Regions from separate parts of the Homo sapiens genome. Here region 1 is linked to region 2. The links come from fine-mapping of genetic effects on gene expression. A gene starts in region 2. The other region holds a variant in brackets. All regions are shown on one strand. Distances are between the middles of the regions.

Region 1 (9,212 bases), 28 kb before region 2:
TAAGGGAAGGACAGGATCTATTTGGTGGGACCCAGGGCAGAAGGCAGTCTCGGGGTAGAGTAACGGCAAGATAAAGGGTAGAGATTGTGGATGAAGATAGGAAAGAATCCAGAAGGAGGAAAAGAGAGAGGGGAGAGAGGCCACACACCAGAGTACACAGGGCTCTGAGCAGGTCCAAGTGGGAGAAGGCAAGGGAGGAAACAGAAAATATGTGTTCTCTAGGACGGAAGGGAGAAAGCACGCAGAAGCCATCTCTGAGCTAACCAGTGGGCCTTCCCCTGAACAGAGAATGGAGGCCTCCAGCAGTGTTGGAGCTGGTTGGGCAGCCAGGCAGGCGGGCTCCTGGACCCCAGCAGGGTCCTCTCCTAACTGCTGCTGTTCCACTCCCAGGTCTGTTTCTGGCTTCTGGGGTCTCTGTCCAGGGAGGTAGGCTGGAGGTGTTTCCTTCCTCCTCCTGCCCATCCCCCCGTCTCCCGCCTCTGTAACCGTCACAGGAAATGGCCTCACCAAGCCCTTGAACGACAGCGCATGGTGAGGCGACAGCTGGGGGCAAGACAGGAGGCATGGAGGTGGTGGGACCATCTCCTCTTGGGGGCAGTCCCTATCTCCCAGAGCCAGGGTCACAGTGGGCGAGGTGGCGGGGGTGTTGAATCACCAAGGCAGCAGGGACGGAGGTGAGGGGACAGAATGGGCCTGGCACAGGTGTGAGTGGTAGAGCGAGGGTCTCTGGTAGCAGAAAAGGTCCCTTCAGCCTCTGCTCTCCTTGTAGCTCCCTGTGGCTTCCCTGCTCACCCCCGTCTTGGGGACATCAGGTCTGTGAGCACCCATACCCCAGCCAGGCACTGTGGCGCCCCACTCGCCCTCCCGCACTCCCTCCTAGAGATGCCCTCTTATATCCCCGGAGTTCGCACCCCCCGGGGCCACAGGACTCCCAGTCCCCCCTTCAGATACTTACTGAAGCAGCTGTGGCCCCCAGGCTGCCTCTTGCCAGCTGTCTGTCTGTCTGTCGGTCTGTCTTTGAGGGCTGAGAAGGCTCCAGGAAGCCAGCTTCCTCCCTCCGCCCCTCCTTGCTGCCACCCACGCACACCCCAGCTGCATTCTGCCCTCCTGTGCCTGCTGCCGCTGCCACCAGGGGTCGGCTGCCTCCCGCCTGTGCCCTTCTGGGGCCCAAGGCCCCGTTCCCTGGGAATGGGTGAGGGGCCAGGCCTTCCCGACCATCCTGCTTTCCCCAGCTTCCAGACCCTCTCCCCTCTTCTGTGTTTCTCCTCTGGGTCTTTGTCACATCCAGCCGCTGCCTACTTGCTGGGCACAGCTCGCCTGACCCCCAGCTCTGTGCTGTCCCACAAAGAACCCAAGGCTCTCCTGCTCAACCTGACCTTGGCCGGAGGCTTATTTCTCCTTCTCTGCTTCTGCCCCACAGCCCTCTCCCTCAAGGCCCTCTCCCTCAAGGCCCTCTCCCTCAAAGCCCTTGCTGCTTCAAGCCTTGGGAATTCATGGCCAAGCACAGACCACATCTTCCCAGAGCAGATGTGGCACAGACTCGGGGTGGGGAAAAAGAAGAAGCAAGAATCCATGCCTCACAATGTGAAGGAAAGGGCCGGGGCCAGGCCAAAAAGGTCGTCTCCACGCCTGTGCCACGGCCCAGCTCTCCACAGCCCACGGCCTGAGTGTAGGCCAGCCCAGCAGGAAGCAGATAGCAGAGTCCACTTGTGGGAGGGAGTCCGAGGGGCTTCCCCTGGGCCCTCAGCCCCCTGCAGGCCTCCTCCCAGAACCCTGACATCTACTTAGAAGACTTACAGACAGTGGACAGTCTCTGGCCCTCACACCAGGGGACTCCCATGTCCTCTTCGCTGCTGGGGTGCCTGGATGCCTGGGACCTGAAGGGTGGCCCCCAAGTCCAAGACTCCTCTGCCCACTGCCCCTGCCTGACCTTGGCAGGCTCCTTGCGGGCCAGCAGCCCAGCCGGTTCATGCTCGCTGCACGCCTCCTTTTACCTTGTAACATTTCAAACGCCCTTCCCTTCCCGGCCCCCAACATGCACAATCCACGTCCTCTTTCTTCCTCCCACTTCCCTGATTCAGCTGTCAAATGGTGACAGCAAAAAAGAAATGAGGTACCCTAGGCACAGGGGGTAGGCATGCCGGAGGGGGTGGTCGGGAGGGGGCTGGCCTTCTGCTGGCCCCTTGAGGAGGAGGGTTGAGACGAAGAACAAGAACAGCCCCCAGAGGCTCAGAAGGCCTCCCAGCACCCGCCCTTGCTCTTGGCAGTGGGGACAGGGGCTGGCTCTTTTTTGAGCCCCTCCATGGCCAGCTGATCCTGGCACCTCCTTCCCTGCAGCCTGCGTTCCTCTCCGGAGTGGGTGGGTTTCCCTGAGGAGGAGGCCGATTAGGGCTGGGAAAGGGGTTGGTTCCCGTGCTCAGGACAGACTGGAGGGAAGCAGGAACCTGGGAATCCCTAACATGCTTGCGAGCAGTGACCTGGAGACTGGCCTCTGCCTCACCCCCCACACCAGTCAGTGTTTCCACTGGTGGGTAGTGGGGGCCCTGGGGACACAGGAGGGGGCAGGTGGGGGTTGGAAAGAGGGCCCGGCTCTGAGCCTATGCTGATTGTTATCAAGAACAGGAAGCTAGGACACCACAGGGGTGGGAGGAGGAAGCGGCAAAGCCCTCCCCACACAGGTCTGCCTGGTCCCCCCAAGTTTCCAGGGTCTGAGCCCTGTTGGCTGTGAGCCCACCCCTTTCCCCCACAGACTGAGGCCTAGCAGTGGCTGGACAGTTGGAAGCTGAGCTTCACAGCAAGGAAGCTGGGAGCCAGGCGATGGGGAAGATAGTTGGGGTTGGGGGTGGGGGTAGTGGCTGAGCATTAGGCAAGACCTCTCAAAGATCCCCTGTTCCCTCTGGGTGGATGTGGGGTAGAGGGGACAGTCACTCCTTGGCTCCTGCCCACTCCTTCTTCCCCTGTGCTTAGGGATACCTGGACATCCATGGAGGTGTGTGGCCAGAGCTCATGAGGGCTGAGGATGCCAACTGCAACCTCAGATGGCACAAGACATGCGTCATCGCCCTGCACCTCCCCCTCCCCAGCCTGGCCTGGTGACTTGGGACGCCCCTCTCTGCCCTCTCTGGAGTGGACTCTGTCCCATCCGGGCTGTTGGAAGGCTCCTGGGCGTGACTCCCTCTCCCCTCCAGAACCTTCCCACCCCTGGGGCCAAAAGGTCACAGCAGCTCTCAAACTTCCATCACTCGAATCGATTTGTGTTCCTGGGTTGAGATTTAGGTTCTAGCCACCCTCGACTCCAGAGAAAGTATAGTAATAGTTGGAAATCAGAAAGATCTATGCATAATGAGTCTAAACGTAGCTTATTAACTGTGTGACCTTGGGCAAATTGCTGAGTCTCAGGCTCCTCCTCAGCTTCCTCCCTCCACTGGGGGATGATCATAGCACCTCCCTTGTCAGCCCATGGTGTGCTTTGCTCACGGAGGAGAGGTTGGGAGTCAGCAGCCAGAGGACCGAGGAGCTGGGAGGAGCTGGCTGGGGAAGTGGGTCTGGGAGCAGCACAGGGTGAGGAGGTCATGGCTGCCGGGTCTCACCTCTCACCAGCCTCCCTCTTCCTCCTCACTGCTGACTTTCTCCCTGAACCCGGGCTGCCGGGGCACTTCCAGCCGAGCACTGAGGAAGTGCAGGAAGGAGTCACTCCCAGGGGTCTCCCAGCATCCCGGGTGGGACAGAGTCCACTCCAGGGAGGACAAAGAGGGGTGTCCCAAGCCACCAGGCCAGGCTGGGGAGGGACTGGTGCAGGGCATGATGCATCTTGAGAGTCAGCCTTGTCCCATCTGAGGCTGTGGTGGGTGCCCTCAGCCCTCCCAAGCTCTGGCCACACACGTCTTGACTCTCTTGTTTTCCCCTCTAGTGATTCCCAGTTCCAGGGCTGTGAGCCGCAGCTCCCTGCCCCAAGTGTCAGAAGCGCCCCCCTCCCTAGCCCAGGCCCGGGGAAAGGCGG[A/C]CATTACATCTGGAATTCCCAGAAGTCGTTGCTCTTTGCCAGCCCCTAGGGAGTAGGGAGCTCCTTGCTGGGGAGCAGTTGGCCCCCAGAGGCAAAGGCTGCCACCTTTTAACAATCCAAGGGGAGGATCCTGGGGAGAGAGTCAGCTGCCTGGGGCCAGGACTGCTGGGTCCTGCACACTCCAGCTGCTCTGCCCCCTTCCTAGCTGCCCTCCTCGGCTCCTCTCTGGAGAAGCACTAGGATCTCGGGTGGCTGTTCCTCCATCCTTCCCACCCCCAAAACCCTAGGCCAGCCTGAGCTGGCTTGTTCTGCCCCAACTTTGTAGGCCCTGGCTTGTTCCTGTTTGTGTCGGGGAGACAGAAACACCAAGAACTGGATCTGGGAAGCCTCATCCCACAGGAAGCAGGGAGACAGCAGGGGAGACAGGGTGAGTGGGGCAGGGAAGTGCTGTTAAGGGCATGGGATAAGTCCAGGCTGACCAGAGTGACAACTGCACCCCTGTCTCAAAGCTTCAACCCTGTGCCGGGCCAGCTAGGGACCTCCTGCTACCTTTTGGATGAAGGGGAACATCCCATACCCTTTACCCCTGGCTGAGAGGACCAGTAATCCAGCCCTGCTTGGCACTGGGATGCCAGGGCCAGCCTGCCAGGAGGTCCAGGAAAGTGCCTGGTTCTTTGCCCGATGCTGGAACTCAGGACCCTGGCAGGAAGGTTTTAGGATAGAAGAGTCCCTCCCTCTCTCCCAAGCCCAGAGCCAGCCAAATGGACATCTATTCTACAATGTGGCCTTTTCTTCCCAGGGGCTCCCGTCTCCCTCCCGCTCTGTGTTGTCCCCGGACACCCACTCATACATCCATCCAGACAGGTGTGTACACCCTCATGGCCCACGTTTGCACAAATGCACATGCACAGTGTCAATCCACACATGACCAGCCCCTCCCCTGCTCTCCCATGGCCTGGTCAGGGGGACCTAGGCCTTCCCCCACTCCCTGGCCACCTTCCCCATAGTATAGGCAGCAGGGGGAGTGGGCGACTTGGCTGTCCTGAGCCACCCTGCCCCTCTGCTGCCCGGTGATTATCTTCCTCCAGTGTGGGGGCTGCCCAAGGCCAGGCTTCAGGCTGTGGGAGAGCAGGGAGGGGCCGGAAGAGCGCTGCCTGGGACAGCTGTAGGCCAGGCCAGTTCACATTTGGAAGCCAGCACTCCCAGACCTGCCCCTTGCTCTCTCCTCTGCCTCCTGGCTGGCTCTCTCCAGAAGGAATCAGTAAGGTGCCCTGAGACCTCAGGGTAGCGGGGGGGAACCCCAGGGGTTCTCTAGGGAGAGGATGTGGGTTTGTCTGTGGGGGTGGTTGCTGGGGAGGAGATACAGCCCTCGTGGTACCTTTTCTTTTGCTGAATGGAGACGTTTGGGCTGGGGAGGCTGCTGCTTATTTATTTTATTTTTTTTGAAACGGAGTCTCACTCTGTCACCAGGCTGGAGTGCAGTGGTGCCATCTCAGCTCACTGCAACCTCTAACTCCCTGGTTCTAGTGATTCTCCTGCCTCAGCCTCCCGAGTAGCTGGGATTACAGGCATGTGCCGCCACACCCAGCGAATTTTTTGTATTTTTAGTAGAGACGAGGTTTCACCATTTTGGCCAGGATGGTCTTGATCTCCTGACCTGGTGATCCGCCCACCTTGGCCTCCCAAAGTCCTGAGATTACAGGCATGAGCCACCATGCCCAGCTTATTTATCAGAACCTCTAGGGGCCCTGTCTCCCGGTCCCCTAGGCTGCGCTGGGGGCTGGCAGCTGTGCATCTTAGGGCCAGGTGCCTCCTCAAGGCTCCGTCCAAAGGACTAGCTATGGAGTCTGTGCTGGGCCCCGCAGACCGCTTTTTTGTGGGGACTCTTGAGCAGGTTCTGACACACTCTGCCTCTACCTAGGCATGTGTCCTGTGTGTCTCTTCTCCTTAGATTCCGAATTAGGGCGCCTCCACCCCGCCTCTCCCCTTCTTGGTTGCTGATCAAGGCTACCAGAAAGAACAGAGTGAGATGTCCCCAGGTGAGGTGGGATGAGGGTGGGATGAGAAGGTACGATGTTTCCGCCACCTCTTGGCCAGACTGGGACCTCTTCCCTTTCACATCAGTTTCCCTGGTTGCAACCTTCCCCCGCCCGCCGCCCCCGCCTTTCAAAAGAGCACATATGCGCAGGCGCACACACGGCCTGGAAAATCTCCTGAGTCTGCAGTGCTGAGTTTCCAGGCCCCCATCCAGGGGCCGGGTGGGCGGCTCTGAGGTTTGGGGCTAGGTGGAGCGGGGGAGGAGCAAGCAGCCCCTGGCTGTGGCCTGAGCAGGGAGCTGGGCTGAGCTGGTCTTGGAGGCAGGCTTGTCCTCCCTGCTGGGGCAGGCCCAGGAGAATCCAGCTACCACAGAGGCTGCGTTGGTGTTCAGACTTCTATACCTGTGTGTTTTCCACACATCCCCTCTCCCCACTACCTGAGTTTGTTCTGAGTCCTGGGCTTCACTCCCAGGGCCCAAAGCCTTTTCTTCCATTCTCACTCCTCATCCTCAGCTGTCTGTAGGTGGGAGCACCTGGGTGAGCAGCTCGGGGTGACTCAAGGGCTCTAGTCAGGAGTAAAGCAAAGCCCCAAGTTCATTATCTTTGAGGCCAGGCCTCAGGCAGGCTTGCCTGGGTTCCAGCAGTGCCCAAAGCCAGGTGGGGGTTGGGAGGGGCAGGGGAACCAGGATGGACGCTGCTGATTCGGGGAAAAGAAGTGGGGGAAGGCAAGCAAAAGTCCCAGGTACTTGAATTGCTCCTCAGAGGATTCCCAGCTGAGAGGACCCCAATTTGGGAGGTTTGGAGCAGGGTCTGCCATCTCTGTTCTATGGAGTCCGAGGTCCCAGGTTCAAGCCCAGCTTTTCTGTTCAGACACTTGGGCTCTTCCCCTCTCTGGTTATCAGCTTCCTCATCTGGCAGTGATGAGGTGGGACCAGAGGAGGCCCAAGGGCCAGGTGGGCTCTAGATCTACAATTGCTGTGACTCAGCAGCCAAAGTATGTGCTTCTGTCCACAAGAGCGTGGTACCACATGGATATACAAAAGGAGACACACACTCAGCTGGCCATCCACCTAGGACACAGGAACACACATCCACATGGTGTCACCAAGACCACACGCACCCCCACAGAAACACTATCTATCTCGCACTCGGTGATGGAGTCAACAGACACTGTGCCCCTCCTCCAGAGCCAAGGAGTGGGACAGCCAGCTGCAAATGTGTCCATTTGCAGAGCCACCTCTCCTCTTGGTCTTCCCCAAGAGCACAGGACACTTTCCTCCCTGGAGAGCTGAGGGCTGGGAGTGGGCTACAGGTAGGGGAGGCATTAAGGAAGGAGACCACTACTACTTCTGCTGCCCTCCCTCCTCCCCCTCACCTTGCCTAGTTCACAAGACAGGAGGAAAGAGAGAAAGCAAAAAGTTGGAAAGAAACAGAAGTTAAGTAGCCAGACAACCTTAGCACCACCACCCGGCCCTAGGAGTTAAAAAAGTAATAATAATAATATCAACCCCTGACCTAAACTACTTGTGTTATCTGTGAATTCCAGACATTGTATGAAAAAGCACTGCAAAACTTTCTGTTCCGTTAGCTGATACATGTAGCCCCCAGTCACGTTCCCCACGCTTGCTCAATTTATCACGACCCTTTCACGTGGACCCCTTAGAGTTGTAAGCCTTTAAAAAGGCCAAGAATTTCTTTTTCAGGGAGCTCGGCTCTTAAGACGCAAGTCGGCTGACGCTCCCGGCTGAATAAACCTCTTCTTTCTTTTTTTTTTGTTTTGAGACAGAGTCTCACTCTATCACCCAGGCTGGAGTGCGGTGGCACGATCTCGGCTCACTGCAAGCTCCGCCTCCCGGGTTCACGCCATTCTCCTGCCTCAGCCTCCCTAGTAGCTGGGATTACAGGCACCTACCACCATGCCTGGCTAATTTTTGTATTTTTAGTAGAGACGGGGTTTCACCATAATAGCCAGGATGGTCTCGGTCTCCTGACCTCGTGACCCGCCCGCCTCGGGCTCCCAAAGTGCTGGGATTACAGGCGTGAGCCACTGTGCCCGGCCTCTTCCTTCTTTAATCTGGTGTCTGAGGAGTTTTGTCTGTGGCTCGTCCTGCTACAGCATCAGGAAGAGGTGGGCTTGTCTGCAGCCTGAGAGTCACAATCCCTTTCCACCTTCTGGGCCTGGAGCCAGCCTCCGCCTCTCTCCCTTCAAGAGCCTTGCCAAGGCTGGAGAGAGCGGGGGTCAGGCTCTGGGGCTAAGAGGCAGCCCCTTGCTTTTGCTGCCTGCTGCCTGCTGCCTGCTTGTGCTTGAAACTCTGCCCTTCCCACCCATGCCCGCCTTCCTTGCCTGCCAGCAAGCAAGGCAAGGTGGGCTAGGGGACTGGCTCCTCCCCTTGCTGCCTCCCAACTTTACTCTGCAGCTATCAGGATGAGGCTCCCAATCCTGTTCGCTGCCCTGCTCTGGTTCCGGGGTTTTCTGGCAGAGGTAAGGTGGGCATGGGGGAGCAGGCCAGCGGGTGGGGTCCCCGCTCTCCAGGGCACATCCAGATCTCCCAGCGCTCCTCGGGACCCCACAGCTGGTCTGCATTAGGCGAGGAGAGGCCACTCCCTTTCCACCAGGGCCAGCACGTGGCGCAGCGAGCGAGAACAGATTGCTCCAGCCTGCCTGGAGAACAGATGCGCCATGGGCATGCTTCCGGGAGATGCCCCTTGGCCATGTGTGGGGCTGTCAGACACGGCAACAGAGCCTTCTCTTGGATCCTGGCCCTGCCCCACCACCCAAAGTGCTGGGATTACAGGCGTGAGCCACCGCACCCGGCCTCTTCCTTCTTTAATCTGGTGTCTGAGGAGTTTTGTCTGCGGCTCGTCCTGCTACAGCATCAGGAAGAGGTGGGCTTGTCTGCAGCCTGAGAGTCACAATCCCCTTCCACCTTCCACCAGTAGCCTTCCCAGAGGCCTCTGTCCATTTCCCCAACTCTCTGCCTCCTTTCTTCCTGCAGGAGGAAGCATGCCTCTCCCTGGAAGGGAGTCCAGGCAGGGAGAGTGCAGGTAGGTGTCTTCAGCGGGGGAGGGAGTTCTGGGGGTGAAGAGTCGGGGGTGTGAGGCCAATTTTTCCACACCAGACCCTGGCTCTACCCTGGCTTTTTCTTTTTTTTGGCCTTCCATTCTTCTTTAAGGCA
Region 2 (9,232 bases):
CACTGTTTCCTGCCCTCTCTGACCACCTGTACTTCCCGGGCTGGGGCTGCTGGGGGCTCCCAGAGTTGTGGGCTGGGCAGGGGACACCCTCAGTCTCTGGAAGCCAATGAGCTGTGCTCTGCAGGGTGGGCCCTCTGGCTGTGATCATATGGTGCTGACTGGCCTCGCAGGGCCAGAGGAGCTCTGGGAGCTGGTGTGGCAGCACGGGGCTCATGTGCTTGTCTCTCTGTGCCCACTCGATGCCATGGAGAAGGTGAGAGTGCAGAGGACAGAGGAAGGGAGGCTCAGGAGTTAGGGCTGAGGTTGGAGGCGGGTAGTTTGTGGTGCTGTCTAACCAGGGCAGGGGCAGAGATCTCAGGAAGTTGCCTGAGCAGCCCTAACTTGGTCCCAGCCACAGGAATTCTGGCCAATGGAGATGCAGCCCATAGTCACAGACATGGTGACAGTGCACTGGGTGGCCGAGAGCAGCACAGTGGGCTGGCTCTGTGCCCTCTTCAGGGTCACACATGTAGGTGTTGGGGCCACAGGGCATGGGGTGGTGTGTGGGAGAAGAGTCCTGTGTGGGCTCCCTCTGCCCTCTCCAGCACCAATGCCGATCATGTCTTTGCCCGAGGGGGAGAGTAGGAAGGAAAGGGAGGTGCAGAGACTGCAGTTTCCATACCTGGAGCCTGGGCATGAGCTGCCCGCCACCACCCTGCTGCCCTTCCTGGCTGCTGTGGGCCAGTGCTGCTCTCGGGGCAACAGCAAGAAGCCGGGCACACTGCTCAGCCACTCCAGGTGTTGCTGGACAATGGTCTTGGGGGAGTGGACACTGGAAGCCCCTCCCTGCCCCTCTGGCATAGCCTCAGATCTCCCTGGGCCCTGCTTGGGTTATGGGCCAAAAGGACACAGTCTCACAATGCCCCTGTCTTCCCCACACCCTACCCTGTCCTCAGGAATATGGTGGGAATTTACCGCCTCCCTCCCTGGGCCCAGGCTGGCTGGCTGGCTGACCAAGTGTTCGGTGTCCCTTCTCAGTCCCTGCACCCAGGTTGGATTTTTGCAGATCCCCGGACACCCCCGCCACATCCCCGGACACCCCTGCCACACCCCCTTTAGGTACCTCATCCAACTCTAGGTCAGTTGCAGCAAGGGTGCGACCCAGCTGGGCACCTTCCTGGCCATGGAGCAGCTGCTGCAGCAGGCAGGGTCTGAGTGCACCGTGGATGTCTTTAACGTGGCCCTGCAGCAGTCTCAGGCCTGTGACCTTATGACCCCAACGCTGGTGAGAGGCGATGGGGCTGGGGTGGGGGCGTGGGGGCTCAGCTGTGGGAAGGGGTGGGAGGTGAGGGAGCTTCTGCCCAGGCCTCTAGGCAGCACCACCCGGGTAGCCACCAGGTGGCGCTGTGGACCTCTGTGCATTCTCCCAGATGGAGCCCTAGGGGTTGGGACACACAAGGGAGCCCTTTTCTGTTAGATTGGGGCAGGCGGGGCGAGCCTCCTAACCCTATGTCCATCTCCAGAAGCAGTATATCTACCTCTACAATTGTCTGAACAGCGCACTGGCAGACGGGCTGCCCCTGAGTCGGCACTGGTCACTGTGCAGGAGAGGTTTGTGCCCTGTGGGATGGGGACAGCATTCCTGACACATCCACGTGGGCCTGGGCTCCCCAGAAGGGCGGCCTCCACTGGGCCCTGTGCTGCAAAGGTAAAGGGTCTTGGAATAAAGACCTGTGGCCAAGCGTGAAGCTCAGTGTGTTCTGTCTGTCCGTCCTCAGACCTGGGCCCCGTGTGTGGGTCTTGTGGGCAAACGTGGAGCCGGGATGGAAGCTAGGACCTGGAGTCTGGTTGAACTAGGTGACCTATGGCCCCTATGGTGTTGGTTTTTCCCCTGAAGCAATCCTCTCCCTGCTAATCCTTCAGTTTCTAAATATCCTCAGACTTTGGTCTCTCCACGTCTAGTTTCCTGTGGTGCTAAGCCCTGGATTCAGAATCACAGCTCCAAATTGTTCGTCCTCTGCCCCACCACCCTGTACGCACCACGCTGTATGCAGTAGGGTTTATCCTGTTTCCCACTTCCCTTCTCCTGCCATCCCCAGCCTTCTCTACCTGCCAGAGCCCCCAGGGGCCACCCTCAGCCCCCACCAGGATGGAGGTGCCAGAGCTACCCTGTTACTCAGAAGGCAGGCGCTGGAGGCACCCCTCAGGCGGAGGTGCCAAGTTTTCCCTGCTCCTTTGCTCTCTCCTCCTTCCTCCCCTCCACATAGGAGGAGGTGGAGGAGAAAGCAGGGAGGGCATATGGAGAAAGGAAAAACCAGGAGGAGCAGCAGAGACCAGAAAAGAGGGCGGGGAGGCAGCTGTCTGTCCCACACACTCTAGGACTGCACTGCATACCATGTGCGTGATTGCTGGTGGCCACATGAGCTCCTGCCTCCCTCCCTGGTCAGGCTGGGAGTTTCCAGGTGCAGTGCCTGATGCTGGACCTTAACTGCCCCTGGTGGAAGGCCCTGGGAGGACACAGAGAAAACCTGGACAGATCAGAGCAAGAGTCCCTGAAGTGGAGTTGGGTCTCCCCAAGGGGAAGAGGGGAGAGCTCTTTGGCCAACCTGAGTTCCTACTAAGGTGCAACGGGTCAGAAGTCAGTGGAGGGTCCTTCTCAGGGCTGGTTGAAGAAGGGTACAGAGGTCGTGCTGGCTGCTCAGCCGGGAGCTTTCCCAGAATGAGACTAAAGCACTGGTGCCCTCCCAGGAGGACTAAATGTCAGTGTCCTCCATATGCCATGTTTATCAGGAGCTGAGGGTGGGCCCCCTAATGACCCTCATAAAAGCAGGCTGGAGGCTCTGCTCTGAGCTGCCCAAGTCTGTCTCAAGCAGCTGCTGCTGAGGTTGAAACAGGGCTCAACCATGGCTTTTCCACTCTGGGAAGATCTCACATTGGAGCAGCAGGAGCTGCAAATGAGATGGAGCCGAGGCTATGGTTGAGTGAAGGAAGTGCAGGCTGGCCTGCGGTAGCTTTCTTCCATAGGGCAGAGGTGGCTCTATCTGTGGGTCTTTCTGGTCATGTAGGCCCATCCTCTGGCCTTCCTAGGAGGCTCGTCTTCTTTTATTTATTTATTTATTTATTATTTTTTTTTAATTGATCATTCTTGGGTGTTTCTCGCAGAGGGGGATTTGGCAGGGTCACAGGACAATAGTGGAGGGAAGGTCAGCAGATAAACAAGTGAACAAAGGTCTCTGGTTTTCCTAGGCAGAGGACCCTGCGGCCTTCCGCAGTGTTTGTGTCCCTGGGTACTTGAGATTAGGGAGTGGTGATGACTCTTAACGAGCATGCTGCCTTCAAGCCTCTGTTTAACAAAGCACATCTTGCACCGCCCTTAATCCATTTAACCCTGAGTGGACACAGCACATGTTTCAGAGAGCACAGGGTTGGGGGTAAGGTCACAGATCAACAGGATCCCAAGGCAGAAGAATTTTTCTTAGTACAGAACAAAATGAAAAGTCTCCCATGTCTACCTCTTTCTACACAGACACGGCAACCATCCGATTTCTCAATCTTTTCCCCACCTTTCCCGCCTTTCTATTCCACATAGCCGCCATTGTCATCCTGGCCCGTTCTCAATGAGCTGTTGGGCACACCTCCCGGACGGGGCGGCTGGCCGGGCAGAGGGGCTCCTCACTTTCCAGTAGGGGCGGCCGGGCAGAGGCGCCCCTCACCTCCCGGACGGGGCGGCTGGCCAGGCGGGGGGCTGACCCCCCCACCTCCCTCCCGGATGGGGCGGCTGGCCGGGCAGAGGGGCTCCTCACTTCCCAGTAGGGGCGGCCGGGCAGAGGCGCCCCTCACCTCCCGAGCGGCTGGCCGGGCGGGGGGCTGATTCCCCCACCTCCCTTCCGGACGGGGCGGCTGGCCAGGCGGGGAGCTGACCCCCCCATCTCCCTCCCGGACGGGGTGGCTGCCGGGCGGAGACGCTCCTCACTTCCCAGACGGGGTGGCTGCCGGGCGGAGGGGCTCCTCACTTCTCAGACGGGGCGGCTGCTGGGCGGAGGGGCTCCTCACTTCTCAGACAGGGCGGTTGCCAGGCAGAGGGTCTCCTCACTTCTCAGACGGGGCGGCCGGGGAGAGACGCTCTTCACATCCCGGACGGGGCGACAGGGCAGAGGCGCTCCCCACATCTCAGACGATGGGCAGCCGGGCAGAGACGCTCCTCACTTCCTAGATGGGATGGCGGCCGGGAAGAGGTGCTCCTCACTTCCTAGATGGGATGGCGGCTGGGCAGAGACGCTCCTCACTTTCCAGACTGGGCAGCCAGGCAGAGGGGCTCCTCACATCCCAGACGATGGGCGGCCAGGCAGAGACGCTCCTCACTTCCCAGACGGGGTGGCGGCCGGGCAGAGGCTGCAATCTCGGCACTTTGGGAGGCCAAGGCAGGCTGCTGGGAGGTGGATGTTGTAGCGAGCCGAGATCACGCCACTGCACTCCAGCCTGGGCACCATTGAGCACTGAGTGAAGGAGACTCCGTCTGCAATCCCGGCACCTCGGGAGGCCGAGGCTGGCGGATCACTCGCAGTTAGGAGCTGGAGACCAGCCTGGCCAACACAGCGAAACCCCGTCTCCACCCAAAAAATACGAAAACCAGTCAGGCGTGGCGGCATGCGCCTGCAATTGCAGGCACTCGGCAGGCTGAGGCAGGAGAATCAGGCAGGGAGGTTGCAGTGAGCCGAGATGGCAGCAGTACAGTCCAGCTTCGGCTCGGCATCAGAGGGAGACCGTGGAAAGAGGGGAGAGGGAGAGGGAGAGCGAGAGCGGAGGCTCGTCTTCTACTTTCAGCGCCATGGCACCAACTGGAGGCCTAGGGTCAAGGTCTGCTCATTTCTTGGTCCAGCTATGCAGCCCCTCTAGCCCTGGGAGGTTATTGGGAGAGTGGAGAGGTGTTGATGAGAGGATCCTGGCATGTGGAAAGACAGGGTGGAAGAAATCCTGGATGCCTCTGAGGTCCCAGGTTTCTAGTATACCCTCTGGCTGGACCATGGGGAGATAGGGCAAAAAAAGGAAGGAGGGGGGCCCACAGCCTGCTCTAGCTCTGCGCGGGGGCTTGGCTCAGCATGGGAGAGACCAGAGAGAGCAAGAGGCTGCATGAAGGAAGCACAGCCAGCTCACTATGGTCTAAGGAGAGAACAGGGATTGACCTCAGTTTTAACCACCATGCCCTTTGCTCTCCAGGGCTCTGGGGCCGGCCCAGGTCAGCCACTTGGTGGGATTCCAGCCTCAGGGTGGCTGAGCTGCAGGTGCAGCACCCGGCCTCCAGGTGGCACCAATCCGCTTACTTTGAGGTGGGCTCTGACAACCAGCTGAGCTGCCCACAGTCCCTCAGACTCCCGAGGTCCTGGGAGCAGGGATCAAGGTGGTCCCCAGGCCGTAAACCTGACAGAGGCTGCAGGAGTGCATTTCCACCCAGGGTGCACTCAGCGGGTGTAACTCCACACCCGTTTCTTTGGAGTCAAGGCCCGGCCTCTCAGTGAGGAGACTGCTCCTGGTTGCCCACCGTCGGGTCATCCCAGCCTGCAGTGGAACCCTCCGCAGCCTGGCCTCTTCCAGGGTAGCCCCTCACTCCCCTCTCTCCTGTCCTAGCAGACAGGCCAGGGAGGGTGGACGAGTTCCAGCTCTGGGGATGTCCCATCAGCTGTGTCACCTTGAACAAATCATTTTGCCTCTTGGGTCTCAGTTTCCTGCAGTGTGAAACGTGGTGGAGGCATGAGGGGCAATGGGAGCCCCAAGGCCTCTTTCAGAGACCTCCTCTGGGTCCCATGTGACCTCGTGGCTGTCCCCAAAGGCAAGAGGGTCCCCAGCCCTGCGGCCAAGGCCCTGGGACACCCTATCCAAACAAATGCAGGTCTCTGACGGGCTGAGCTTTGCTCGCTTGGGTTTCTTTGCTTTCTTCCTTTTTTTTTTTTCTTTCCTGGATGAAATTCCTGCCAGCTCCGAAGGAAGGAGGGAAGAGGAGCGAGCCGCAGTGTAGAAAGTTTCCTTGACTCCTCCTCCGGCTGGGTCTCCCTCCCTTGCCAAGCCCAGCCTGTGAAACTGAATAACGAAGATCACTCAACAATGCCTGCCCCTCTCTGACTGCACCGTCCCGGCGCTCCCACCGCCGCCGCCGCCGCCCAATAGAGCCCCTGGGGCGGTCCCCACCGACGGTGCAGCCCGCCGGGACCGGGAGGAAGCAGCTGCGGCCATCGCGCCGTGCGTCCGCGCCCGGCCGCCAGGTGCCCCAGTAGCCCGACCGCCGAGATGCCCAGCCCGCCGGGGCTCCGGGCGCTATGGCTTTGCGCCGCGCTGTGCGCTTCCCGGAGGGCCGGCGGCGCCCCCCAGCCCGGCCCGGGGCCCACCGCCTGCCCGGCCCCCTGCCACTGCCAGGAGGACGGCATCATGCTGTCTGCCGACTGCTCTGAGCTCGGGCTGTCCGCCGTTCCGGGGGACCTGGACCCCCTGACGGCTTACCTGTGAGTACTGCCCGCCTGTCCCCGCCTGGTCCTGCGGGCTGCTGGCTAGCGCCCAGTCCCGGCCTCAGCAGGGCACCTGCTTGCTTGGTGCCCTGGGGCATGGGCATCCCGGAGAGGGTTTGCCCCCTTCCAAGTTGACCGTTGCGGGACTGGGGAGGGGAGAAGAGTCTGAGACTAAATACCAGGCGAGCAGGGAGACCGGGCTTCCCTGACTTGGCTTCCCCATTGGCCTCCGTGCTTGTGGGCTGACTATGGGAGCCCAGGCTTGGCGAGGTGGGTTCTGGACCCTGAGCGGGAGGGCGCGGGGCTGGCTGCTCCATCTCCTGTTGCTGCATTCTCTTCTAGCAGAGCAGTGCCCGGGATGGTGGCTGAGGGTAAAGCTGACAGAACTGGAGGTGGAGGTGAGGGGAGCGTGCCCCAGTAGGGTGGAAATAATGTCTGTTCTTCTGCCATGGTGAGGACAACAGGGCTGTCACACTGAGGCTGGGTGGCCTTCGTGGGGGCGGGGGGGGCGGGTTTCCTAGAAGCTGGGAGGGGGGCCTTATCCACTCTTGTCTCCTCAGAAAGGGACTCTGCCAGCACCATCTCCCTTCACTGGGGCCTCCTGGCTCCCCCAGGGGCCTCCCTAAAGTCATGTCCCAAGAGGCTGTGTTGGAGACACTAATTTGTGGGCAGGCGCCGAGGCTGAAAACCAGAGAACCATTTTTAGCGTCTGAGTTGGGGTGAGATGGCGCGTGAAGGGGACCCTACTGGGGGCAGCTGTCCTGTCTGTCTGGCTCATGGGAGCTTCCCCTCAGAGCTGGAGGGCTGGGGGCTCTGGCTGCTCACCACCTGGGCAGGAGGAGGGTGAGAGAGCACATTCCAGGCCACCCACCTGCACCCCCAGCCCCGCTCTGGGGCAAGGAAACCTCCTCCAGCCCAGCTCTGCAGGCTCTATCAACTTCCTCAGAGGAGCTGGGAGCAGGTGGGAAAGCCTGGTGGGGCCTTCTGCTGAGGGCTAGGATCCCAGAGTTCCTTCTGGCCTGAGAGAGGCTCCTTATGGCTTTGGGGTTCCAGCACATGGGAGCTTAGAGGAAGAGGAGGCTGGGTGAATCTTTATAGGGGCCTAGCAAGAATTTGTGGAACTAAAGATGCTCAGTGTTGGGAGTGTCCTGGTGGGAGGTAGAGGGTCCCAGAGGGCAACTCTTCATGGGGCTCCTCTCCAAATGTCCCTGTCCCCAGGTTGGGATGTCCCCCTCCACTCCAAAAGGCACAGGCTGTGGGCCAGGTAAGGGAGTGGGAAGAGAAAAATAATGTCCATCTAGAAGGACAAATGGAATCCTTCACAGTGCAGTAGGTGACGGCAGAGGCAATCATGGGAATAAAGGTACCAACTGCACAGAGCCTGGGCGCTCAGCATCTGGCAAAGCAGGGCAGGCTCCGGCCCCACCCTACACACAGGCCAGCCCCTCTTTCAGCAGTTTTCTATCCTGGGAGTATGTGACATTGGTTCATTTGAAGACAGGGTCCTGTGGCTAAAGAGTTTAGATGTGACTTCTGTGGAGCCTTTCTCTGGGTGAGCTGAAGGAAGGTCCCTTGCCTGGGTTGAAGGGGCAGGGGAGATAAGGCCTTCCAGAGCTTCCTTTCCCAGCATTAAGTCTTCCTAGACTGGTTAATGACCCTTTTTCTAGAAGGACTTGGGGAAGGAGGTACACTGTCACCTTTGGAATTCAAGCATCCTACCATCCATGCTGGCAGAAGTTTTTCCCACTAGCTTGCCACAATTCCCTCGGAGCTGTGAAGTCTGCATTTGGGTTCAGTGGAGGTGGGGTTTTCTGAGCTGGTCTGTGTCTTCCTGGGGATTGAGAAAGCCCCTCTCTCTCAAGACTCAGGGGATGCTTCTGAGAGTTGTGGAGAGAAGAGAGGGAGTGGGAGCTATAAAGAGTATGATGGGTCCTGAGGCAATATGGGGAATTTAGCAGTGGGGTCTGGAATATTGGAAGGAGGTGGCAGAGGACCGTGTCCCCTGCCCTGGGCTGGGGAGGGGTCCCATCTGGATGGTGCATGAAGGATTCCTACAGTTGTCCTGAGGGTGTCTCAGAGGAGGAATTTTCTTTCTTTGCCCTCTCTGGAGAACAGCTCTACCAGAAAGGCACCTGAAGGTGGGGTTGAGAGCTGGCATGCAGAAGAGCCAGGGTGGGGAAGTCTTGGGGCTCCTTTCTCTTTTCAGCGATGTTAGGAGATGTCCAGCTTGGCCCTGCCCCATGTATCCCAGCCCTTGCTGAGGAGAGCACAGATTCGCATCTGATGATATAATCAGCAGTGCCTCTCTCTGAGCCACTCAAACTTTGGTTCCTTCCTAGCTCTGCCACCTACTGAGAATCACTCACTGAACACCTCTAAGCCTCAGGTTCTTCATGTGTACATGGAGATGAGGAAGCAGGTTGCTGAGTGGATTAAATGAGATAATATGTTCAATGAAAGTCCCCAGAGTGCCTGACACCCGAGGGTAACTCTGAAATGGTGGCTAGTATTATCATGCCTCCTATGGGTGCTCCATGGAGGTGGAGGTAAACTACCAGGCCTCTCCACACCAGAAGAAAATTGAGCCTAGTGGGTGAGTGTAGAATTCAAGGGAATGGTTTGTGGCTGGAGGAAGAGAGCTGTGTGCTGGGGAGGTGACTGTCAGGGCAACTCTTGATCAATACTTGGCTGGTTCTGGGGACTTGGAGCCCAACCAGTTGGTGAAAATTGGGGGTTGGGGATCGGGAGGGAGAGTG

The links.
Region 1: its variant is fine-mapped to the expression of LGR6 in whole blood (TOPMed, PIP above 0.99).

Annotation. Positions count from the first base shown.
Region 1 is chr1:202,159,590-202,168,801 of GRCh38, forward strand. It overlaps PTPN7 (protein tyrosine phosphatase non-receptor type 7), which reads right to left and starts at 1,013. Exons shown (of 10, transcript NM_002832.4): 1 at 956-1,013. It also overlaps the pseudogene PTPRVP. RefSeq lists enhancers at 224-303, 3,834-4,502, 5,082-5,582, 6,226-6,805. The variant A/C (reference allele first, on the strand shown) is at 4,001.
Region 2 is chr1:202,187,729-202,196,960 of GRCh38, forward strand. It overlaps LGR6 (leucine rich repeat containing G protein-coupled receptor 6), which reads left to right and starts at 6,071. Exons shown (of 18, transcript NM_001017403.2): 1 at 6,071-6,473. The coding sequence starts at 6,262. It also overlaps the pseudogene PTPRVP. RefSeq lists a silencer at 1,281-1,330 and enhancers at 4,657-5,460, 5,155-5,204.